Homo sapiens: one gene and its partners. The protein of the gene in region 1 purifies or fractionates together with the protein of each later gene. This does not show direct contact. Each region holds a gene or a part of one and is shown in the gene's direction. Other genes may lie near its edges. The genes, in order: CPNE2, PIBF1, ZDBF2, DDI2, DNM1L, NEK1 and ZNF318.

The links.
Region 2: the proteins of CPNE2 (region 1) and PIBF1 purify together in Homo sapiens (affinity purification with mass spectrometry; 2 studies listed by BioGRID and IntAct, with this or other methods). This does not show direct contact.
Region 3: the proteins of CPNE2 (region 1) and ZDBF2 purify together in Homo sapiens (affinity purification with mass spectrometry; 2 studies listed by BioGRID and IntAct, with this or other methods). This does not show direct contact.
Region 4: the proteins of CPNE2 (region 1) and DDI2 purify together in Homo sapiens (co-immunoprecipitation; 3 studies listed by BioGRID and IntAct, with this or other methods). This does not show direct contact.
Region 5: the proteins of CPNE2 (region 1) and DNM1L purify together in Homo sapiens (co-immunoprecipitation; 3 studies listed by BioGRID and IntAct, with this or other methods). This does not show direct contact.
Region 6: the proteins of CPNE2 (region 1) and NEK1 purify together in Homo sapiens (affinity purification with mass spectrometry; 2 studies listed by BioGRID and IntAct, with this or other methods). This does not show direct contact.
Region 7: the proteins of CPNE2 (region 1) and ZNF318 purify together in Homo sapiens (affinity purification with mass spectrometry; 2 studies listed by BioGRID and IntAct, with this or other methods). This does not show direct contact.

What each region holds. Positions count from the first base shown.
Region 1 is NC_000016.10:57,113,083-57,116,582, forward strand, and holds part of CPNE2 (copine-2), read left to right. Parts: intron 1-205; coding exon 206-385; intron 386-2,393; coding exon 2,394-2,468; intron 2,469-3,500.
Region 2 is NC_000013.11:72,820,133-72,823,632, forward strand, and holds part of PIBF1 (progesterone-induced-blocking factor 1), read left to right. Parts: intron 1-1,716; coding exon 1,717-1,850; intron 1,851-3,500.
Region 3 is NC_000002.12:206,273,443-206,277,462, forward strand, and holds the start of ZDBF2 (DBF4-type zinc finger-containing protein 2), read left to right. Parts: upstream 1-1,220; 5' UTR 1,221-1,504; intron 1,505-1,567; exon of another isoform or gene 1,568-1,738; intron 1,739-4,020.
Region 4 is NC_000001.11:15,651,958-15,655,457, forward strand, and holds part of DDI2 (protein DDI1 homolog 2), read left to right. Parts: intron 1-3,500. UniProt on the Homo sapiens protein: Aspartic protease that mediates the cleavage of NFE2L1/NRF1 at 'Leu-104', thereby promoting release of NFE2L1/NRF1 from the endoplasmic reticulum membrane.
Region 5 is NC_000012.12:32,741,801-32,745,300, forward strand, and holds part of DNM1L (dynamin-1-like protein), read left to right. Parts: intron 1-788; coding exon 789-948; intron 949-1,553; coding exon 1,554-1,610; 3' UTR 1,611-3,500. UniProt on the Homo sapiens protein: Functions in mitochondrial and peroxisomal division.
Region 6 is NC_000004.12:169,609,784-169,613,797, reverse strand, and holds the start of NEK1 (serine/threonine-protein kinase Nek1), read left to right. Parts: upstream 1-1,214; 5' UTR 1,215-1,576; exon of another isoform or gene 1,577-1,654; 5' UTR 1,655-1,778; intron 1,779-4,014. UniProt on the Homo sapiens protein: Phosphorylates serines and threonines, but also appears to possess tyrosine kinase activity. Involved in DNA damage checkpoint control and for proper DNA damage repair.
Region 7 is NC_000006.12:43,335,570-43,338,647, reverse strand, and holds the end of ZNF318 (zinc finger protein 318), read left to right. Parts: coding exon 1-1,490; 3' UTR 1,491-2,578; downstream 2,579-3,078.

The sequences.
Region 1 (3,500 bases):
CTGTCCAGCCCTGGGGAAGTCACTTAACCTCTCTGTGCTTCAGTGTCCTTGTCTGTGAGCTGGGGATAGTGAGTCACTGACGATGACCACAAGAGCCTGGCACAGAGTAGGCATTGTACAAGTTAGCAGAATGATTTCCAGCAGCCTGCGAGGTCTTGGACCAGCTGCCTTGACTCTGACTTCCATTTTCCTGCCCCTCTGCTAGTACGACAGGACAGAAACCGCGATCAACAACCTCAACCCCGCCTTCTCCAAGAAGTTCGTGCTTGACTACCACTTCGAGGAGGTACAGAAGCTCAAGTTCGCGCTCTTTGACCAGGACAAGTCCAGTATGCGGCTGGACGAGCATGACTTCCTGGGCCAGTTCTCCTGCAGCCTGGGCACGGTGAGCTGGGCCCTCCTGGGTGGGAGCAGGGGCCCAAAGACCGGGCAACCCCTCAAAAAGTCTCTTCTCGTGCTGTCTTTCCCTAGCCCCATCTTCCTGGGTGGGTCCCAAAGTGCAGATGCAGAGTGGGGAACAGTCTTGGCGGGTTCAAGGCCGGGCTGAAGAGCTCCCATCTGGAGAGGCAGCCAAACAGAATGCCTCTCAGGATCTGGGGCCCCAGGTGGCCAGGGATTCCGATTGTTAGATATAATCAGGTGTGGTCTTGACCTCTGGGGGTAGGAGCATCTGACCAGCAACCAAGACACCCACAGTAGTCCCGCTTTGTGGCAGACTCACTGTGTGACCTTGAGAAACTTCCTTTCCCTCTCTGGGCCACACTTCCCCATCCATCTCAGTCCTTGGTAAGCTCCTGGAGGCCGGGAGCAAGCGGGGCTAGGCGCCCCTGACACAAGTCTCAATCATTCCTTATGGCTGTATGCCCTTGGATAAGCTCCCATCCCCCTCTGGGCCTCAGTTTCCCCACATTTTCCTTGGGGATTATGATGACTGCTCTGCCCAGCCTACATGGTTGATAAGGGAATGAAATGGAAAATGCTTTGAGGGGTCCTAGTGGAGACTGAAATGCCCGGGGCCTTCCAGGAGATGGTGACCATGCAGAAAGCAAGGGACTGCCATGGTTGTGATGTCTACTTTTTGCGTAAGAAGCAGGGTACAGTAGTCAGGGTCCCTACCCTGTGGTATAACTGAGAAGAGAGCTTAAGGGCTTGTGGACAGGGCAGGGAACTGACAAGGGATGGGGAAACCAGTCCAGGGCTTGGCCCCAGAGGAAAGCTGACCACCTTCACCTGGAAGGAAGGCAGGGTGAGGAAGTGGCATTGCCAGGGCCTGGTAAGACCTGTGGCCCATAGAGGGAGGCCTCTGGACTGCAACTGAGGCAGAAGACAGAGTAATGGAGAAGCTCCCATCAAACGGGGGCCCCCACCTCTCACGCCACCTGCTCTCCCGTCTCCTGCCCATCCCCCCAACTGGCTGAACCTCTGAAAGCCAGAGGGCAAAAGAGCCAGGTGGCACAGTCCCCAGGGCACAGAGCAGGTGTGTGGATCTGCGGAGAAGAACTAGCCCCACAGGAGCAGGACTAGATCATACTGATGTGTGCTCCCCGCTGCACAGGACGACGCTCGCACTGCACCCAGGAAGCACGAACCATGCTGGCCCCTGAGTGCAGTGGGCAGACACAGGTGGGAGGGTGACTTTGCAATGTGGCCCACTTTTCCTCTCTATGTTGTTTTGATTATTGCACCCTGTGTAAGTGTATTACCTATTGAAACCAATAAAAATAGAAAGAATTGGCCGGGCTCTATAGCTCATGCCTGTAATCCCAGCACTTTGGGAGGCCAAGGCGGGAAGATCGCTTGAGCCTGGAGTTCGAGACCAGCCTGAGCAACATAATGAGCCCTTGTCTCTACCAAAAAAAAAAAAAAAAAAAAAAAAAAGCCAGGCGTGGTGATGCATGCCTGTAGTCCCAGCTACCCAGGAGGCTGAGGTGGGAGGATCGCTTGAGCCCAGGAGGTTGAGGCTGCAGTGAGCCGTGATCGAGACCTGTCTCAAAAGGAAAATACATAGAATCTGAGCTTGACTCTGTCCATCAGAGATCATATCCTGAGGCAGGTGGGGTCTGTGGAATGCCTCTGGAGGAGGGAGTTAGGGGGCTAACCTCCCACAGTTGTCTCCAAAATGCCTTTTCCTAGGGGCAAACCAGGCAGTGGGAGTCCAACTGCAGCGGGAGACCTCAGGCGGGTCTCTTACCCTCTCTGGGCCTCAGGCTCCTCACTGCCCAGATTGGCTGCTGTCCACCTCCCAGGGTGATGATGATGCTCAGGCGGGTCACCAGCCAGCCAGGGCGGGGTGCAGCCCTGCCAAGAGGATTTTTCCGGTGCCGGTGGAGGATTTTTCCTTCCCGGGCTTCCCCCGCTTCCTCACTGAGCGCCCTTTCTCCTCTCTCCCCTAGATCGTCTCCAGCAAGAAGATCACTAGGCCTCTGCTGCTGCTGAATGACAAGCCTGCGGGGAAGGGCTTGATTACGGTACCAGTCCCCTCCCGGCTCTCCGCACCCCCTCCATCCCCACCCCACACCCTCCCCCATCAATGGGCCGCTTCCCTGGCAGATAATCACCAGCTTTGTTTGGAGTAAAAAGGCCCAACTTACAACTTAGCAACAGGTCTCTTAGCAACCGGCTGCTGGCTCCACAAATGATGCAGTGGGGGCTGACAAGCTGGGGAGGCCTCCAGAGCCCTGCCAGCAGCCCCCTCCCTGCACTGGCCCCTGCCTGCCCTCCCCTGGGGGTCGTTCAGAAGTGCCCTGCCCATCAGTGCCCTGCTTGTGGCTGCGACGCGCAATGATTCCTGCAATGCGCAACGACTCCCGCGATGCGCAGTAATTCCGCTGGAGATGCACAGGCCCTTCGCCCGGATGAGCTCCTTGGTCTTCAAAGACTCCCAGAAGCCAGGGCCACCCCTGAGACCCAGAGAGGAAGTTCCCTGGGGCAGCTGAGCTAGCGAGATCGTCCCCTGGTTGTCTGGCTGGCTTCTGAGCCCACGCGATGCCTGGGAAGCCGGCCAGGCTGGAGGGAGAAGCCATGCCTTTGTGTGTTCCCGTGTGTTACTCCCCTGTCCTGGAACCTCACATGGCTCCCCACTGCCTGACCAACCCTTCGGTTCAAGGCTGTGAAGGACCCCTCAGACCCTGCCTGGCTCTCCTGCCTTGGTGTTTTTTTAATCTCCTTCACTTAAATGCCCTGCGTTCAAAGCAAACTGAATTCTTAGCATATCCTGAACATACCTCAGGCTCTTACTCTGTTCCTGCCCCCACGGATCACCACCTCCCAAACAACCTCCCCCAACCTCTTGGTTCCTAACTGGCCCATCTAAATGCCTTCCCAGGCCAGGTGCATGGCTTGCACCTGTAGCACTACTCCTTGGAAGGCTAAGGCAGGAGGATCCCTTAAGGCCAGGAGTTTGAGGCTGCAGTGGGTTATGATCATGCTACTGCCCTCCAGCCTGGGCAAGAGAGTGAAACCCCATCTCTGAATGAATGAATGAATGAATGCCTTCACAA
Region 2 (3,500 bases), on another chromosome or scaffold:
AGCACTTTACATGTATTACTTGATATATGCTTCACAAGAACTCTGAGGTAGGACACCAGAATAGAGAGGTAAACTAACGTGCACAGAGTCTTACTGCAGGAATTCAGTTTTAGACAGTTGAATTCTGGAGCTTGCCTTCCTAGCCATAACACTATACTCTCTTCCAAAACAGTGACATGATTAATGATGTTTAGAAGGATAAAGCATTCTTCAGAAGAACTAAAGATTCTTGTAGGACTTAGGTCCGAAATGATATATGTGATGATCTTTCGGGAGGTGATAGCGTATCCTCAGCTGTAATCCCATAATAAGTACCATAGTAACATTCCATTCTCATGGAAAACTTCAGCGTAGAACAAGAACATAATACCATACCAAAGCAAAACACACTGAATGTAGTTTTTCCATAATTACTTCTCTCAAATAGCCCTTTGATAGAAATTTGGGGACTAAAATAATCAAAGTTACATTTAGTAGTTTAAAAAGGACAAAATCGTCTTACTCATCTTTGTATCTGTAGTGCCTAATCCGTGACCAGTCACACAGAAATGATCCAGTCAGTATGTGTGGAGTGAACATGACCTCATTTAGCTGGCCAGCTACTTAAGCAGTAATGACTTAACACAGGATGCATTTAACATGCCAGCTTCTGAAGGTGGAGTTGATGATTGGTTGCAAGATTTGATGAGTTCAAAGAAGGAAAATAAGTAGGAATTTAGTCCCGTCTGCTTCCCCTCCCAGCTTCCCATATTTAATCATTTCTTTTTTAGCTTTTATTTAATTCTTATTATATACCTGGCAGTGTTTAAAGTGGTGGAGGTCCAGCGTTGAGCAAGACAAAATCCCCACCCTTAAGATGTTTACACTCTGGTGAGATAAAGAGAAAACTAATGTGATGGTAATGATACAGTGAGATCAGTGCTCTGAAGGAGACAAGCATTTAGATTATATGCAGGTATTCAGGCAGTGGGAACAGGTTAGAAGCAGCATTAGTGGGTTCAGACAATTTCAGATCTCCATTAGGGTTGGAGGGTGAAGTGTGAATGTTAGGAATGGTGAGAAATGGGGCTTGTAGGAAGCAGCACCAGATTGTAAAGAACCTTGTGACCAACTTTAAGGTTTTTACTTCCATTGCTCTTCCCATATCAGCAATGCCTTTCTTAACATGCTACTGACATGGGGAGAGTAGAGGGAAGAACAATGTAAAGATGTGTTTCGAGGGTCACACGATTCCTTTTTTTCTGAGTAACACAATTGGAACTGCATGTTTAATCTCTTCATTAATTATTTTTCATTGTAGATACTGATATCCATATGACTTTTCATCTCTAAACTGTAAAATCCTCAAGAACAGGAAGTGTGTTTTATTCACTTCTGTATCTTCAGCATCTGATAGTAACTCAGTAAATGTTTTTAAAAAGTCATTTAACATTTGTAGTCATTTTATGTTTTAGCCTAGTAACTAAAACATAGTTGTTGTGTTATTTATTTGAAAAACAGTTTAAGTTTTAAACAACTGAGTTTACAGACCACTCTGTGAACTTAAGATTACTTGCCTTTGAATAGGGAAAAATTACTAAATTTAAAAATTGAGGAATTTTTTTTACTGTTTAATTACAAGGACAATCACAGCTTAACAGAAGACTTCAATACAGAATTTGGGCAACTATGTTAAGTGTTTAGTCTGAAATGTGTTATTATTCCTTTGGTTTATAGACATATGAGGAAGATCGAAAAAACTACTCTGAAGTTCAAATTAGATGTCAACGTTTGGCCTTAGAATTAGCAGACACAAAACAGTTAATTCAGCAAGGTGACTACCGTCAAGAGAACTATGATAAAGTCAAGAGGTAAGTAGTTAAAATGGCTGCAGTAGTAGTTCTCTATTTTTAGGGTGCATCAAAGTCACCTGAGTTTTTACCAACAATCAGTTGTTAATTTTACTTTTACCTTATTCTTCTTTGCACAAATGCATGCAGTTTTGGCAGTTTGTTGGGTTTATATTGTATTTTTATATTGGTTGTTTTTGTTTTATTTAGATGTCACTGCTGTCTTAAAATGTAAACAGAGATAGAAACCCAGTAAAATCACACGTGTGTAAATATTTTTTCAGTGTTATTTGATGATTATTTTTATGTAGTGGAATCAATTTAAATACTTAACAGTTTTCCCTGAAGTTTTTTTCAGCTGTTTCTTCCTGACAAAAGACACACACTCTTTCAAAAAAAAAATGACACTTTCTGAAAATATGTTTCCTAATATTTGCTACTTATAGCAAATACCTTTTTTTAACTGGAATATTCTTTTCTGTTGTTTGTTCAGTAATTTAATGAGCTGCTACTTAGCTGTATGTCCCTCAGTACATCTCTTTTCATTCTGAGCCTAAGTTTCATCATTTATGAGATGTTGCTAATACGGATAACTGCACTATATAAACTAAGATCAAATAAATATGAAAGCCTTTAAATATATATGTACTGCATATGTAATATAAATGGAATGACCTTATCTTAATTGTTCACTCCACTTGAAATAATTCTTAAAATGTAGTAGTCAGTGAATATTTGTTAAATGAATGAATGATTTAAATTGTGTAATTTAAATTACAAATTGCATAATACCGTATGTGAATTTGCAAAGATTTGTGGATAGAAGATTGTCATTTCTACTCCCATTATGACTGACACATGGTATTTCTTATGTATATGGCATTATGCCAAAATATGATAATTATTGGAGCTTTAAATCCATGAGAGCTGTGCTCAGTGGGCTCTGGAATAAAGCTGGAGTTCAAAAGAAGCATTTAAAAATGAAGTAGAGGGCATAGTGGCACATGCCTTTAGTCCCAGCTACTTGGGAGATTGAGGTGGGAGGACTGCTTAAGCCCAGGAATTCGAGGCTGCAGTGAACTATGATCATGCCACTGCACTCCAGCCTGGTGGCAGAGTGAAACTTCATCTCTTAAAAATATAAAATAAAAAAGAATAAAAATGAAATAGATTATGATGCTAAGATGATACCAGTTGGTATTTTCATGTCCCCTCTGCCACTATCAGTCTATAGCAATGACAGATACAATATAAAAAGAGAAAACTAAAAAGCACAGTCATCAGAATAATCCATCGGGGCCACGGATGATCATTGAAACAAGATGAGTCATGAGTTGATAATTACTGAATTTGGGTGATGGGAGCATGGGTGTTCATTATATCACCTCTATTTTTACATATGTTTTCATTTACTATAATAAAAACCTAGGAAAGAAAAATATAACCTTGATCAAAAAGCATGATAAGCATCTTTATGGTAGAAATGGAATAGTAAAACAAGAAAGGACTCAAACTATGACCCTTTTTAGTTCACTCAGCAGAATGAATGAGTTTAAAAACATCGGTCATAAAATATAAGATAAACTGGGGAAGAAAAAAAAGCCCTTTTATGCCCCGGGTAAATTCTCACAAATGTACAAAAGGAAACAGGTGTATGGATGTTAATTGTGT
Region 3 (4,020 bases), on another chromosome or scaffold:
AACGAGAGTTTATAAGATGCATCTTGATTTCACAGATGTTAAAATGTGGGGAAAAACATGGCTTAGCATCTGTGAAATACATAATGTCATGGTGCTTCGATCAATGTATAGTGGATTTTCTATAATTCCAAAGTTGGGATGTGGAAAAAACTTGCCTTAAAAGAAATCCGTACTTTTTGGTATGTTAAATCTAAGGGAGGTTATAAATCGAACAGTTGCAGGAGCCCAACTTTAAAGTGAGAGAAAGATGTAGTGGGGGAAGAAGGAGCTGAGAAATACAGAAAGAATAAAAACAATGGACGCAAAAGCAATAGGCAAGTTTTTTTGTTGTTGTTCTTTAAAGGGACAAAATCACAAGCTTACTAAAAAGGGTAACGACAATTACAGCTACAGCCAAAGAGCAAAGTAGCTCATTTTAAGATTATTTTTACATTAGACATAAGCTTTGCAACAGGGCCTCTCTCCATTTTAGTAAAATTGGTTTAGGTGTTTCAGAACCTTCTTATCGCAGATTATAATTTCATATTCAGTAGTGTGATTCATTTAGGTTTGTGATCTCCGTTACACTTAAACTGTTTTTGCTCACAACTATATTCGTAATGGGGTAGCGCAGTGAATATAATTGCATGACCTAATGTTGTTTGTTAATATTTGTAACCCTTTAATGTGCAGGATAGATCTTTGAATACCTAACTTCCTTAAGCCTCAGTTTTCTCAATTTGTCAAAGGGGGACAATAATAGGATTCATTCAGAGTTACTCTGAAATGAAATGCAATAATGTATAGAAACCTTAAACGGTGCCTAGCACAGAGCAAGCGCTCATTGAACAGCAGCTTTTGTGAGATGCACCTCACTATGAAATAGGCATGGAAACGGAAACGACTAGCTCTCTTAGCCCCGTTTTCTTTTCTACATTCATACGTTGCTTTGAATTGGCAAGCAGTTTTTATTTGGACCCTCAAACGCTAAAACCTTGGTCTCTACTTCGCGTCCCAACTGTGCTTATGAGTCTAGTCATTTTTGTTGGAACGCGATAGATTTCCCAAGCTCCGGAGTGGGGCCCTGACCAGGGAGGAAGTGTCCGCTTTAAGAGCTTCTGGAGGGGAGGAAGGGGCTCCTCCGCCCGGGTGGGAGAGTGAGTGAGTGGGTGGGCGGGCAGGGGGCGGTCCCGCCGCTCCTGCGTCAGAAGGGGTCTGGTTTTCGCACCTTCCCTGACGTCAAACCTCCATCAGGGTTGCAACGCCACGTTGCCTTGGATGCCTGCGTGAGTGGAGTCGCGACTCGGGGCCCGCGTCCTGAGAGACGCGCTCCCGCGCCGCTTCTCGCCTCCGGACCGCAGGGGCCGAAGTCGCCTATTTCTGGCTCCGCGGGCAGCGGGGCCGTGGCGCTCGGACGGTCTGGGATTCGGGCGCCGCCGCGGAACCGGAATAAGAAGGGAGAGCGCCCGGCTCGGTCCTCGGTCTCCACCGCGGCCCGGAAGGAATCCGGGCAGCCTCCGCGGAGGTGAGTGCCGCGGCGGGGGCGGGGCGCGGCCGGGGCGACGCCCGCGGGCGGGGCCTGCTCGCCGGGCGCCCGGGGCGCCTTCTTCCCGAGGGACGCCAGGACCGCTCGCTGGGCTCCCGCGGCCGCCTCGCAGGTCCTCGGCTTCCCCCCACCCCGCGTCCCTTTCTGCCCCTGCTGCGTGAGAGGTGTCGGCGGCTCCGGGCCGGGATCGAGGTGGCGGGGCGAGGGAAGGAGGTGGGGCGCAGGCTGCATTGCGCTTCTGTCCGGGGCCCTGGGTCAGAGGGGCCGGCGGACGAGGCCTCGGGTCCGGGCTTGGGGAGGGGGCGGTCTGCGGGGTCGGATTGAGGGCCGGGAACCCGCGGAGTCTTGCCCCTGGGCACCTGTGGGGCCGAGATCCCGAGCCACCTGTCCACACACCCCCTTCCCCCAGTGCCCTGCGTTGGGTCCAGCTGGCCCCAGACCTAGGCCTTTCCCAGCCTCGGGCGATTATAGTTTATTTGAAAACGTTTGATTTTTGTGTTAATGATTCTTTTACTACCGCCGTGCAACAGTTGTGTAAATGTGGTCGTGTTACGCCATCGTTTTTACTTGCTCCTAAGAAGGGCCTTACCAGCTCCTGCGATTATCTCACGCGATGATTCTTGGTAGCTCGTGAAAAAAATGCATAACAAGATACTGGTTCTCAAGGGACCAAAACCCCACCCCCACCTAAAGGAAATAGCTTGTTTTTGTTTTTCTTTTTTACAGCAATATGCTACGTGTGGGGAGGGGGAGGGACGATGGAGGCAGCCTGTAGCGATCTCATCCTCGAGAGAATCTGCTAACAATTTGGGGGGTATCTTTCCTTCCTTTTTAATTAATACACAAACATATATACGTGTGTTACATAAGGGGTGTTTATTTGCTTTTTTCACTTAATACGTGGAAGACCTTTTCTCTATCGTTTGAACCTAAAGCCTAGAAGGCAAGAAAGCAACTCGTTAGAGAGTTGATAAAGTATCACTGCAGTGGCCAGTGATTTGGATAGAAATAAGCTGAATTCAGGGTAAGAACTGGTTTCTATAAAATATGGTTTACTCTGCATAATAATTGGAGGCAGTGTTTTTTCAAACTGAGTTTTTTCAGCCGGTTCGTGAATGGTGAAATTAATTTAGTCATGACTAGCATTTAAAAAAAAATAAGATCGCATAAAAAAATCAGAATGCATTATATGTAATGAGAGTATTGTTTTGTGAAAAATATTTTAACTGTGCGCGTGTGCATTGTGAAATTTAGTGGGTCGTGACTAGCATTAAAAAAAGTAAGATCGCATAGAAAATATCAGACTGCATTACATGTAATGAGAGTATTGTTTTGTGAAAAATCTTTTAAGTGTGCGTATGTGCCTGTGCGTGTGTGCTCGGTTGTAATTAAAAATTTATTGGTTCCTGTGTGTCATGTTAAATAATCTTGAGAGTCGCTAATCCAAGGTACTGTCAGCACTCAAATGAGCAAGATGCAATTAAACTAGACATTAGTTTTATTTTTTCTTTGGAATAGTGGTGATGTTGATTGCAGCAAATAAGAGTCCTAATTATTTGTTTTCACCTAATATTAAAACAAGTAGTATTCCTAAAAATACAGAGAGGAAGTGTCTAAGTCGTTAAGAGGTTAAAGCATAAACTACTCAAATTGACCAGTGATCACATCTCAGTTACGCTGGTTATTGGTGTGAGACCTGCAACAAGATACCTCTTTTCTCTCAACCTCAGTTCCCTGATTTGTTAAATGGGAATTAATCATGGCAGCTACCTTATAAAGCTGTTTGTTATTTAGATGAGATAATGCACAGGAAGCTGTTGACAGAGCGCCTGGCTCAGATTAAGTACTAAGTATTAGCTATTATTATTTTATTAAGACTGAATAGAGGTGTCTAGGATAATGCTTGTCACCAGAGGAAAGCCAGCATAGCGTGGATAATCCAGAAAAGGGGAAAATTGAAAATTAGTAGTGTTGTGTGGAGGAACTGACACTGAATTAGTGTGGTCTTTTTATGCATTCGGCCATTGTTTTGTCATTGCTCCTCAATTGTTTCCCTACTGCTGGACGGAAAATTTAGATTGTCTTATTCAGAAAACCAAATGCCTTTCTATTGTCTTTCCTTATTATTATTATTTTTCAAATTAAGTTGATGTCTCTTTTGTCAGGCAGTTGAAAAATATGTTTTATGAGGATTGTGGGTTTTGTTAGTTCTTACCACACTGCCACGCCACACTCAGTTTGAGAAATACACACACGACAACTCCAGACTCATTTCAGAAATATTTTTATCCATGTTTACCTCTGCAGCTGGTGCAGATCTCAGGTGTGCAAGAAATATTTCTTTAAAAAAAAAAAAACCAAAAACAAAATGCTGTTTTATTTGTATTTTAAGACATTTCTGCCTAAGTCATCTGGGTAGCTCAGAAATCTCTGTTCACTGCCTGGGATAGGTTTATGCAATTTTAAATGTTACATAAATGAATGAAATAAGAAGG
Region 4 (3,500 bases), on another chromosome or scaffold:
CTTCAGAAGGGGTAGGAACCTTTCCAGTTTTTAATTAGTCTCATGGTCCAGTAGTAGATGTGTTCATTATTTGTCTTCTTAACCTCCTTCTTTGATCTTCCTTTTTTTTTTTTTTTTTTTTTTTTGGAGACATTGTCTCACTCTGTCACCCAGGTTGGAGTGCAGTGTGCAGTGTGACATGATTGTAGTTCACTGCACCCTTGACTTCCTGGGCTCAAGCAGTCCTCTCACCTCAGCCTCCTGAGTAGCTGGGACTACACCTGGCTAATTTTTTATTTTTAGCAGAGATAGGGTCTTGCTGTGTTGTCCAGGCCTATCTCCAACTCCTGGGCTCAAGCAGTCCTCCTGCCTTGGCCTCCCGAAGTGCTGGGATTACAGGTGTGAGCTACCATATCCAAACCCCATCTCTTAATACAATAATGAAAAAGTCTGTATTCTGGCCCGGCGTGGTGGCTCACGCCTGTTAATCCCAGCACTTTGGGAGGCTCCGGAGGGGGGGGGGGGGGGGCGGATCACCTGAGGTCAGGAGTTTGAGACCAGCCTGGTCATGGTGAAACCCCATCTCTACTAAAAATATAAAAATTGGCCAGGCGCGGTGGCTCACGCCTGTAATCCCAGCACTTTGGGAGGCTGAGGCAGGTGGATCACGAGGTCAGGAGATGGAGACCATCCTGGCTAACACGGTGAAACCCCGTCTCTACTAAATATACAAAAAATTAGCCGGGCGTAGTGGTAGGCGCCTGTATTCCCAGCTACTCAGGAGGCTGAGGCAGGAGAATGACATAAACCCAGGGGGCGGAGCTTGCAGTGAGCTGAGATCGCACCACTGCACTCCAGCCTGGGTAAGAGAGCGAGACTCCATCTCAAAAAAAAATAATAATAAAAATTAAAAAAAAATTAGCAGGGTGCAGTGGCACACCCCCCGTAACCCCAGTTACTTGGGAGGCTGAGGCAGGAGAATTGCTTGAACTTGGGAGGCGGAGGTTGCAGTGAGTCAAGATGGCACCACTGCACTCTAGCCTGGGCAACAGAGTGAGACACTATCTCATAAAAAAGAGAAACATTCTGTTTTTTAGTATTTCAACAGATTAAGAACAGCTCAGTCCATTGCTGTGTTTAAGATAGATTGGGGTTATTTTGCTTAGACACATTTTAGAAGCTTCCTAAATTTTTTTAGGAAGTTTTTTTTGGATGTTTTTGTTTTTGTGATTTTCCTAAAGAAAATTTTGACAGTAAGCAGATGTTAACTTTTGAGTCCAACAGTATTTCCCTATTTCTTTCCTTTTCTTAGGACTGTTTTATTTTATTTTATTTATTTTATTTTATTTTATTTATATAGACAGAGTCTTGCTCTGCTGCCCATGCTGGAGTGCAGTGGCGCAGCCATGGCTCACTGCAGCCTCAGTCTCAGTCTCACAGGCTCAAGCAGATCCTCTCGCCTCCGCCTCCCAAAGTATTACAGGCATGAGCCACCATGCCTCTTAGGCCTGGTTTATTTTGAAAAGTATCATTGCTACTGTGTGTGAGCAGCCCTAACTTCACCGAAGACAGAAGAACCAACAAAAAGAAGTATAAATTTTTATTTACTTAATTAAAAAAAAAATTTTTTTTTGAGACAAGGTCTTACTCTGTCACCCAGACTGATCCTCCCATCTCCCCTTCCTGACTAGCTATGACTACAGGTGCCTGCTACCATGTCCAGCTAATTTCTGTATTTTTTGTAAAGATGAGGTTTTGCCATGTTGCCCAGGCTGGTCTTGAACTCCTGGGCTCAAGCAATCCACCCGCCTCAGCCTCTCAAAATGACAGGATTATAGGAACGAGACACCATGCCTGACCAGCATAATTGAACGTTACTGAAAATGCAGTGTTATGGTGTGAGATTACAGTATTGTCATCAGGCCATATTAGCACTGTATATATTGAAATCATGCTACCTAATACTTTTTTCTAAGTCTCAGTTATTTAGCTTGTTTAAATGTAATGATGGAGCTAAGTTTTCTAGGTAAAATGGGGTAACAGTTTTGCTGAAATCCCCCATTTATTATAGAACGGTGACTCTGGGATGTATTTTCTAGAAGCTGAATAGAATTTACTTTTGAGTTTGGGTTATTTTACAGTCTTGTGCTGGCATTATTCATCAGTATGACTAGTATCACACATTGCTTTTTCTAGTACAGTAAATTATTAAGAGTTACAAGTTCAGGGAATAGCTTTATCCTAAAGACGAAAGTGGTAAGAGTTTTAAAAACAGCCAGGCAGCTTTTGCCACTGTTTTACTGGAGAACATTCAGATGTCTGTCATTGAGCTTTAGAATGGGTGTGGGTGGCAGATGGAGTTTTCCAGGTTGACTTTGTTCAGAATCAACTCCATCACCTTTTGGCTTAGTTTTATGTATAAAGTACAGTTTGAGTCAGGGCGTGGTGGCTTATGCCTGTGATCCCAGTACTTTGGTAGGCCAAGGCAGGACGACCACTTGAGCCTGGGAATTTGAAACCAGCCTGGGCAACATAGTGAGTCTTTGTTTCTACAAGAAATTTAAAAAAAAAATTAGCCAGCCATGGTGGCGCGCCTATGGTCTCAGCTGTTTGAGAGGCTGAGATGGGAGGATCACCTAAGCCCAGGAGGTCAAGGCTGCTGTGAGCCATCATCGCTGCCACTGCAATCCAGCCTGGGTGACAGAGTGAGATCCTGTGTCCAAAAAAAAAAAAAAAACAACAGAATTGACTCCCATCACTTTTTGGCTCAAGTTTTTATATTAACTACAGTTTTGGTTGTAACTTAAGTATTTTGTAGGAAGGGAGGAATTTTGAACAACCAGACAGAGACTAACTTAATAGTTTTAATCTTACCTGCAAGGTAAGCTTGAATGAATTTGACATAGCTCCTTACAAGGTTTTGCATTTGGGGTGTAATTTATCATCTTAGTCGTGATGCTGTGTGTTAATATGAGGATATATTATCATTTTATGAAATGTCTTTTTTTTTTTTTTCCTTTTAACCTCCACAGTCTTGGTGCCATTATTTAAGAAACATTAGCTGATAATAGCAGTGTTTTCTAACCTACTAATAACAGTTATCCTTTTTTGGTAATTACCTTATTTTAGTAAAAGTTTGGAAGATTAAAACAGATACACATATGTTTCCAGGCTTAGTGAAGGGGATGTACCAACTTCAAAGAATTAAAAAGAAATGGCTTTTTACCTAAATAACCTTTTGTTGCTGGTAGTATAGCTTGTGCTAATTTTTGTAATGTTTAAGTAATGAAATAATTCTACATATCAGGTCCTTTTTATTTAGAACATCGACTTCCTAATATCATCCGAATAAATACTCTGGACATAGTAGGTGAAAGTATTTTGTTAACAACTTCTTTCTGGCCAAGCATGGTGGCTCATGCCTGTGGTCCCAACACTTTGGGAGGCTGAGGTGGGGAGATCACTTGAACCTATGGATTTGAGACCAGCCTGGGCAGCATGGCAAAACACTTGTTTCTAAA
Region 5 (3,500 bases), on another chromosome or scaffold:
GGAGCAATAGGCTATCCCATATAGCTTAGGCGTGTCATAGGCTATACCATCTACGTTTGTGTAAGTACACTCTGTGCTGTGCATGTAATGAAATCACCTAATAATGCATTTCTCAAAGCATATCCGTGTCATTAAGTGACATATCTTTTGTGTGAATAATACTAGATTATGTAGATATACTGTGTTTAAGCATTCATCAGCTGATGTTTGGATTTTTCTCACTTCTTGGCTATTATGAATAAATGCTTATTGAAGAGTTTTGAAATAAAGATGATGAAAAGAAGGTAAAGTATCAAGAATTGTTGCTTTTGTTTTTTTTTTTGAGACACAGTCTCACTCTGTTGCCCAGGCTGGAGTGCAGTGGCGCGTTCTTGGCTCACTGCAATCTCCACCTCCTGGGTTCAAGTGATTCTCGTATCTCAGCCTCCCGAGTAGCTGGGATCACAGGCATGTGCCACCACACTCAGCTAATTTTTTATTTTTAGTGCAGACGGTGTTTCACCATGTTGGCCAGGCTGCTGTCAAACTCCTGGCCTCAAGCAGTCCACCCGCGTCAGCCTCCCAGAGTGCTGGGATTACAGGCATGAGCCACTGCGCCTGGCCGAGAACTGCTTTTCTTAATGTTTAATTACAGTTAAGCAAAAATCTAAAGGGCGATTATGCCATTAATGAAATATCCAAAGTAGTAGTGTTCTTACTTAACTTTATTTCATGAGGTTAGCATCTAAGCCCAAATTGTTAAAAGTAGAATTTTGGCTAAAATTCCATAATTTGGTTGTGTTTTGCAGTGTGCCAAAGGCAGTAATGCATTTTTTGGTTAATCATGTGAAAGACACTCTTCAGAGTGAGCTAGTAGGCCAGCTGTATAAATCATCCTTATTGGATGATCTTCTGACAGAATCTGAGGACATGGCACAGCGCAGGAAAGAAGCAGCTGATATGCTAAAGGTATTGTGGACCTTTTGATTTTTTATACTTGGGTAGTAGATAGAAACATAGAAATAGTTTTAAATGCAGTTTGATTCTTGGATATGTATAGTCTTTATATTCTAGCTAGGCTTGTTTCCTGTTGGTACTTGATAAGAATCTTTTTTTTTTTTTTTTTTTTTTTTTGAGTGGGAGTCTGGCTCTGTCGCCCAGGCTGGAGTGCAGTGGCACAATCTCGGCTCACTGCAAGCGCCGCCTCCCAGGTTCACGCCATTCTCCTGCCTCAGCCTCCCGAGTAGCTGGGACTACAGGCGCCCACCACCACACCCAGCTAATTTTTTGTATTTTTAGTAGAGACGGGGTTTCACCATGTTAGCCAGGATAGTCTCTAACTCCTGACCTCATGATCCGCCCGCCTCGACCTCCCAAAGTGCTGGGATTACAGGCATGAGCCACTGCGCCTGGCCGGTACTTGATTAGATTCTAATTCCAGAGAAGATATTGGTTAGTATAAACTGGTTAGTTATAAACCTACCACATATATATTGGAAAAATTACCCTGCGTAATTCAGATTAATTTCATAACTTTATAATAAGCATTTAAAATTTTTTTTCCTTTAATGCAGGCATTACAAGGAGCCAGTCAAATTATTGCTGAAATCCGGGAGACTCATCTTTGGTGAAGAGAACTATGTAATACTGAGACTTTGTTGACTCAAAACTTGCTAGTTACTGCCTACCTGAGTAGAATCTTATTTATGAACTCCTGTGTATTGCAATGGTATGAATCTGCTCATGTGGAGACTGGCTATAAACTGAAAAGTGTATTCCAAATTGCAGAACACATCACACATTTAATCCAAATAATAAATGGCTGTTTCTAAAGTTTCCCAGTATATATAAAATACATCAAGTCTGTCTTGTGACAGTTTCATCTGAACTTAACTTAAAAACAACTGTTAATGTTCTAGTTGTGCAAAGCAGTTTGCCTGTGGATAAGATGACCTGTGTAATAATCTTTGTTAGTAGTCTTAAAGCTGCTGCCATAGTCCTCCAAGAAGAAAGCACCAAGACAACATTTCATATGACTATAATGCATGTACTATATAAGCTGATCTGGCTTTGAAAGATGTGAGTTGGCAAGTTCCTCACATAGAGTCATTGTATTCCACCTGTCCTTCAATTTAGTTTTTTCTGAGCTTCTTTGCAGCCTTTGATGTGTTTTTAAGAAAGCTGAATGCACAAGAGGATCTGTGACACTGACATGGCTGTGGTGTGCATACTGTGTAGTTACATAGCCCTTCCAATTCTGGGTCCATTTGCACTAGCAAATTAAAATATGCTTTGATTCATACTTAAACCTGAAAGCAGGAATGCCTACATTAATTCCTACATTAAAAACAGCCATCTACCCTTGATTATCTAGAAAGACTTGGTAATGATGGTCAGTTCCTTTTAGATTTCAGAAAATCAAATGATGACCTAAATTTCCCTTAATTTGCAAATACAGTAGTAATTAAGGTACATCTCTAAAGTGGAGCACTTACACCAGGCTCTAAGATTCACTTTGAGGTGGAACTTAAAACCAGTGTACTGTATGTATGCATTGGTAATAGCTACTTTTGCTTCATAGCTTCATACCAACAAAATATATTTATTAGAATAGTATGAAAGTACTGGAGGAGCTGAAAGAAAAACACCCAAGGCTGGGCGTGGTGGCACACGCCTGTAATCCCAGCACTTTGGGAGGCCGAGGCAGGTGGATCACCTGAGGTTGGGAGTTGGAGACCAGCTTGACCAACATGGAGAAACCCCGTCTCTACTAAAAATACAAAATTGGCCGGGCGTGGTGGCGCATGCCTGTAATCCCAGCTACTCGGGAGGGTGAGGCAGGAGAATTGCTTGACCCTGGGAGGTGGAGGTTGTGGTGAGCTAAGATCGTGCCATTGCACTCCAGCCTTGGCAACAAGAGCGAAACTCCGTCTCAAAAAAAAAAAATAAAACAACACCCAGATAGATACACATACTCCTTCAGACTTACAGACCTAAGCTGCATTTATGGGGTAGTGATGAGGTTTAGAACATATACATATTTTGTTAAAATTCCCCAGATGATTCTTGGTATGAACGACTATATTATAAATTTTAAGATGTACTTAGAAATCCTTAAGACATCTAGCCCCGTCTCTAATAGACAACACATTTATATTGCAGATATTACTTTTTTTTCAGTTTATGACCAGGTATTTATGAAGGACTATTGGCAGGGAAAATATGAATATGTTAACTTTAGCTTATGGCATCAATTTACTAAGGAACAACAGGCTCACCAACTGATGTCAAACATAAAAACCCCCACATCAGTCTGATACGATATGGTACTACTTTGAATCTGTTACTAGTACCATCTTGACAGAGGATACATGCTCCCAAAACGTTTGTTACCACACTTAAAAATCACTGCCATCATTAAGCATCAGTTTCAAAATTATAGCCATTCATGATTTACTTTTTCCAGATGACTATCATTATTCTAGTCCTTTGAATTTGTAAGGGGAAAAAAAACAAAAACA
Region 6 (4,014 bases), on another chromosome or scaffold:
TTTACAGTATTTCTAGTTTTTCTGGTTATAAACAATAACGGTTATCCTTGTATATAAATCATTGCTCACTTGTTCCAGAAGTTAAATTGCTGAGTCAAAGGATATGCATACTGCTAGCATACCTTCTAGAAAGACTGTAGCAGTTTGTAGTCCTACCAATAGTTTATGACATGAGCCTAAAGAATTATCTAAGGAGGTTAGCTGACTAGCCATTCTTCCTGTAAGCAGCAAAAAGAATTTGCTTAGATTAGTAATTGGCAACATTTCACTTCACTTTGATGTACAAAAGGATGTGGGTAGAACTACAATTGTGCATTCAGACATGATAATTCCTACTAACTGGGGGTAGGAGGGCCCACAGGAGTGTAGACTAGAAGTAGAAAGAATGAGGAAAATAAGTCTTTTGTAGCTGTATGGCGATTGAAGAGGAGATAAAACAAACTCTCCAGCTTTTCAGGTTGGGTGACTTGCAGCGCCATCGTCTGGCAAAGCCGCCAAAATCTTTCAATGTCCCTAGGAATAAAGTTGCCCTGAGTAGGGCCACTCAGGATGACGCCAGATGATATCCCTTATTATAGTTTTAGGGGAATCTCTTCCTACCTTCGCCAGTCCTGCAGTGAAAAAATGTACTTAGACTGCTGTACATTTCCAAACCCTTCAACATACAGACAAGTAATTTATACATACATTAGATGTAAAGGTGTAGAAAACCCCATACAGCTTTTTAAAAATATCTCAAGACTTAAACATTCTTCTGTTTCAACCATCCAAGATATAATAGGAAAAGACTTGCTTTTTAAAGCAAAATTGCTCTTTAAAATGTGGCATCCCTAAGTAGTGCGCTTTCATGTAAAATAAAAAAGTCCCTTTCTCGGTGTAGTAGCTGTGGGAAAATTTTATATGCTTTATATTCCAAATTGGTTTCAACTAGTGAGTTCTCTCCCGCATCTCTGCATGACTCTTAACAGCTTTACACTCTCTCCATCCTTTTCATCTCTCCCGTCTCGTCCTTTCTGTCTTCCCGCCTGCAGAGCCCGCCCCTCCCGTCCCTTCGCACAGCACCCCGCCCGCCCCTTCGCACAGCACCCCGCCCGACCCTACGGTTCTAGCCCAGCCTCACTGCTCCTTCCCAGCCGCCTCCGCTGCGTGCCGCCTTCCACGCGCTGACGTCACACGCCAGCGCCGGTGACGCGCCGGCCGCTCTCCCTTAGTCCGCATTCGCTCCAGGGTTTTGGGACCCTAGGTTGCGGAGTCCTTACCCTACCCTGGCCTCTCGAGCAGTTGTCCCCATAACTCGGAATCTAGAGCCGCTGTTGCGAGGCAGGAGCACGTGGCAGTCAAGTAGCTTCCCAGTCCCGAACGCCGCCCGTCCCCACCCCGCCGTGGCCACTAGCAACGACCTCTGTGAAGTTGGAGAGGCGGTAACGGAGGCACTCCCCCTGCTGCACCCCGCCGTTTCTACGGGGCTCAGAAACCAGTTTGTTTGTTTCGTCGGGGTAGTGTCGACCTGTCTTACGGGCGTCGCCCGAGACAGGACGGAGTCAAACCCGTGGTATCAACTGAAGACGAGTGTCAGGTGTGGAGAGTCTCAGTGCCCCCTTTCAGTCTGGACTGTGAGCTGCTGCTGGTTAGACAGTCTTGGTTTCTCTTTCAGGATGTCATTTTCAAAATGCGGGATGGTACCTCTGCTTTATTAAGCCCCGTAGGAAGACTGCCACACCTAGACTGATGCTTATTAGTCATCACCGTTATTCCTACTAACGTCCTGTGTCACTGAGGTGAGTTCCACTTGGGGGAAGGAATGACATGCAAAATGGTAAAAATCATCCTGGAAATGAGATGTGCGTAGAACTGCTTATATTGAGATTACACAGATACCTTAAGTGTTTGCAGGGAAAATACCTTAATCTCATTTAAATGTTAATTCTCTAAGACACTCTGTATTAACAAAGCGATTCTTGGACATTACGGTATTTTTAAAAACTAGAGCGGTAATGGGATTAAAATAATAGGAATCTTAGTATGGATAAGCAAGCATTTGCATTGCTTATGTTGTGTCCAATCTTAAATTACTGATAAATTTTAATTAGGAAGCGAATATGAGTAGTAGTTAGCTGGTTACCCTGTAATCTTAGATTTCTGTTTCCATGATTTGACACAGTTTCCATATGTAAGGCATTAATTGTTGTACTACTTTAAGAGTTTATCATAACTTTTTTTGCAGGCCTATTTTTTGTTCTTTAAGATCTGCTTTAGGAAGCAGAAATATTTTTTATTGCCTTGGTATGTTTCATTAGAAATGTTTATGAAGGATTAAAAGTGGCATCCAATCTAAGTTAATGACCTTTTTTTATGATGCAGCAGTATTGTAGAGCTGATGGAGGGGAGCCAAATTTGGAGAGAAGTAACTCCTTGTTTCTAGTTTACATTTGTCTGGTTTTAGAGGTTCTACAGATCTGTTTCACTTAAAATATCCATTGTTCTAGGTGAAATGTAAGGAGCCTATTTTGTGGGAAAACAGGTTTTTTTCACGTTAAAAGTCACTGTCAGGAATTTAATAAAGGTCGTCGGACTTGACCACAGAAGTTCTTTTGAGGTCGTGTGAATAGTACATTGACATTGTATTCCAAGTAAATTTTGCCCTGTCTAATCTCCTGCCTTCTAGTCTAAGTCATGAACATGACACCTTTTCACGAATGTACATTCTTTATTTACCTGTTGGTAGTTTCTACTACAAAATCTGTTGAATATTGTCTGAATAGACTTACAGAGAAGAAAAAATATTTTGAAAAAAGTCTAATAGAAATTCCATTTTTGCTTTCTGCTTTTTCGAATAAAGGAAGATAAAGAACTTTTTTCCTGAGAAGATAAATGGATCCCCTCCCACTATTCAAGATGGTATTTATTGCTTAGGCAGAACTGTATGTATGGATTGTAGCTGCATACAGCGCCAAAAGACTTCTTGAAACCTGTTGCCATGCCTTTACCATGTTTCCCTTCAAGACAGCCTGTCTATAGAATATCTGAAACACCTGATGAGAGCTTAATGCTTAACCTAAGTATGTGTTCCAGATTGATCGAAGTTGAGCTTTTCCATTCATATACTCTAAAATTGTTTATATGTGGCTCACAAAATTTTATTATGTCCAAAATTGCTTATTTGTGGCTTTAAAGAAATTCTTAGTGGCTGGGTGCTGTGGCTCTTACCTGTAATCCCAGCAGTTTGGGAGGCCACGGTGGGTGGATCACTTGAGGTCAGGAGGTTGAGACAAGCCTGGCTGACCTGGCGAACCCATATCTACCAAAAATACAAAAAATTAGACGGGCGTGGTGGTGCGTGCCTGTAATCCCAGCTACTTGGAAGGCTAACACAGGATAATTGCTTGAACCCGGGAGGCAGAGGTTGCAGTGAGCCGAGATACTGCCACTGCACTGTAGCCTGGGCGACTGAGTGAGGCTTGTCTCAAAGAAAAAAGAAAAAAAGAAAGAAATTCTGGGTCAGACGCTGTGGCTCACACCTGTATTCCCAGCATTTTGGGAAGCCGAGGCAAGTGGATCATTTGAGGTCAGGAGTTCGAGACCAGCCTGGCCAGTATGGCGAAACCCCGTCTCTACTAAAAATACAAAAATTAGCTGGGTATGGTGTCACACTCCTGTAATCCCAGCTACTTGGGAGGCTGAGGCAGGGGAATCACTTGAACCTCGGAGGCCGAAATGGCACCATTGCATTCCAGCCTAGGCAACAGAGCAAGACTCTGTCTCAGAAAAAAAAAAAAAAAAAGAAATTCTTAGTAAAATGTGAGGAAAGCTGTCTTATTTGACTAGAGGCTGAGGTACTTTTTTCTGGAGCATAGTTCATATACTTGAAAAGAAGCATGATGCCATAAGAAAACTTTGAATGTCAAAAGTGAGGAGTTTGGAGATGGGGAATTGTTGAAGGATTTTAATTGGAGAAATTGATTTAGCCAGTATTCTTACTATTTCTATCAGATATTATTGTTTTAATATTTATTG
Region 7 (3,078 bases), on another chromosome or scaffold:
GGGTAAAGGAGCTGTCTGAGGGGATAGTTGATGAGGGAGTAAGTACCAGCATTGGACCCCACAGCATAGATGATTCTAATTTGAACCATGGAAACAGATACATGTGGGAGGGAGAAGTAAAACAGCCCAACTTGCTAATGATTGACAAAGAGGCTGAACAGTCCAATAAATTGATGACAGGAAGTGAAACTCCAAGTAAAGTAGTGATCAAATTGAGTCCACAGGCTTGCTCTTTCACAAAGGCAAAATTAGACTCATTTTTATCAGAAGCTAGGTCTTTACTCAACCCACAAGATACACCTGTGAAAATTTCTGCCCCAGAGTTGCTGCTTCATTCCCCAGCCAGATCAGCTATGTGTTTAACAGGTAGTCCACAAGAGCAAGGAGTTTCAGTTGTTAGTGAGGAGGGGCTAGAGAATTCAGCTCCAGAATCAGCTTCTAGAACTTCTAGGTACAGAAGTCTCAAACTCAAGAGAGAAAGATCAAAAGACTTTCAAGTTAAAAAGATCTATGAGTTGGCTGTTTGGGATGAAAACAAGAAGAGGCCAGAGACCTGGGAGAGCCCAGAGAAACCAAAAACAGAAGCACTGGAGCTACAAGATGTCCATCCAGAGTTAACAGTGACAATAGAAAGCAAGGCCCTAGAAGACTTTGAAGCTACAGACTTAAAGGTAGAGGAGCTTACTGCCCTGGGGAATCTGGGGGATATGCCTGTTGATTTCTGCACTACTCGGGTAAGCCCAGCACATAGATCCCCAACTGTCTTGTGTCAGAAAGTGTGTGAAGAAAATTCTGTATCACCTATAGGGTGTAATTCCTCCGATCCCGCTGACTTCGAACCAATCCCATCTTTTTCTGGGTTTCCGTTAGATTCTCCCAAAACCTTGGTGCTTGACTTTGAGACAGAGGGTGAACGAAACTCACCTAATCCCAGGAGTGTTAGGATCCCTTCTCCTAACATTTTGAAAACTGGACTTACAGAAAATGTTGACCGTGGCTTGGGGGGCCTAGAGGGAACACACCAGGCCCTTGACCTGTTAGCAGGAGGAATGATGCCTGAGGAAGTAAAAGAATCTTCCCAATTAGACAAACAAGAGTCACTCGGATTGGAATTAAAAACAATTAATTCTGCAGGCCTTGGGCCATCTCCTTGCCTTCCAGACCTTGTTGACTTTGTCACACGGACCTCTGGAGTTCAAAAAGATAAACTGTGTTCTCCACTCTCTGAGCCAGGTGACCCTTCTAAATGTAGTTCCCTGGAGTTGGGGCCATTACAGCTAGAAATATCGAATGCATCCACCACAGAGGTGGCAATTCTGCAAGTAGATGATGACAGTGGCGACCCTCTGAATTTGGTTAAAGCTCCAGTGTCAAGGTCCCCTCCAAGGGAGCAGGTAATTGAAGACAATATGGTCCCTCAGGGAATGCCTGAACAGGAAACTACAGTTGGTGCCATCCAGGACCACACAGAATCCAGTGTTCACAACTAAGAATAAATACCTAGAGCTACTTGTGAGTGAATCATTGGCTTCTAGAAATCAGATGCCCAGATGATCCAAGACTAGTTTGTTATCTCATCTGGAACCTACACCAAGAGATGCAGTCAGCATCTTAAAGTAAATGTTCATGGAAGCTAAAAAATTTACCTCCTTTCCTTTTCCCTTTCCCCTTAAAACACCAGACAAATCGATAACAACTTATATATATATATATATATCTGTAAAAATGTATTTTGTTAATTTTTTTGGCCAATTTATTTTCTCCCACTTTGTCATTAAAATCACATGTCTAACTGGCTCACCACATAGTGTGCTTTGATTGTATTTTGGCTTTGACTCTGCCATTTCTGAAATGTGGGGGAGGATGGAGGCAGCTGACCTCTCCAGTTGCTGTGTTGTATTCCTACCCAATTTCCTGGGCAGTTGATGCATCTCTGGGAAAAACACCAGAAAGCTTGCTGAAATGGAAAACTTGGAAGAATTGTTCATCTCTTAGGCTTCCATTTGGATGGGCCTGCCTTAACATTGTTTGAAATGCAGCGTGAGTAGCTCTTTTGTTTACTGTTTACACCCCTTATTGGCATGTCAACTCCTGTACTTCCCTTACTCTGTTGCCTTTCTTGAGATGCATTGTCCTGCTAACCCACAAACCTGTTTGGAAATAAACATGGAAGAATATCTGGCAGGCTTACTTTTAGAAGACGACAAATCGGTAAGGCTTATTCATGGTTCATTGCCAGGAGCAGATATGCTTTTGAGATCACTTTTATTTTTGAAATGGCCTTTGTTCATTGTATTGTGATCCAATAACACTTTGTATTAAATTGTTTAGCAGCCATTTGTGTTGTGAAGGGGTAGAAGATCTCTGAAACTTGTCTTGAGATTGAACTCATTCCCTGTTCCACAAACCCATATGTATCCTTTCCTCTACCTCCTCCTTTCCCAATTAATTTCAACCATAGTACGATGTTTGGGGTTGTATATTTTGTTAAAAAGATTAAAGAATTTATGAGTTGGCTTGGACAAGTTTAACTTTATTTTTAATGTGTTAATTACTTGGAATAAATGCATTAATCTCATGTTTCCTTCTGGATTTTTGTTTTGAAATCACACACATTTGAACTCCAAAGGAAAACTAGAACAGTGAATCCCTGCTGCCCTATTGTCTATCCGCACCCGCAACCATGCTTTCCTCACTTGTCAGAACTACTTCATGCCAGAATGTTAGGATATATAGTCTGCCCCAGCGCAGCCTGGGTGGGTAGTGAGTAGGCAACAGTTGTCTGGTATTGGTATCTTCCTGTTGTGAAGCTTTTTATATACCTTTGTGTTGACTCTCCGTAGGATTTTCTGGGAACTGAGCTCCCCTAGGACAATCAGGTTCTTGCTCTTGGGAATTAGGGAGCTCAGTCCTCAGATTTTCTCTGTCCCAGTTTCCTCTTGTATCCCTGTTGTCAGCAGTTTATAACCTGACTCAACAGGGCCTTCGGAGTCTTATTTACCCACCTGTTCCTCAAAGATAATACAAAATTGCTGATCTGGATTAACCTCCCCGCTCCCCCAATTTTTTTTTTCCTGT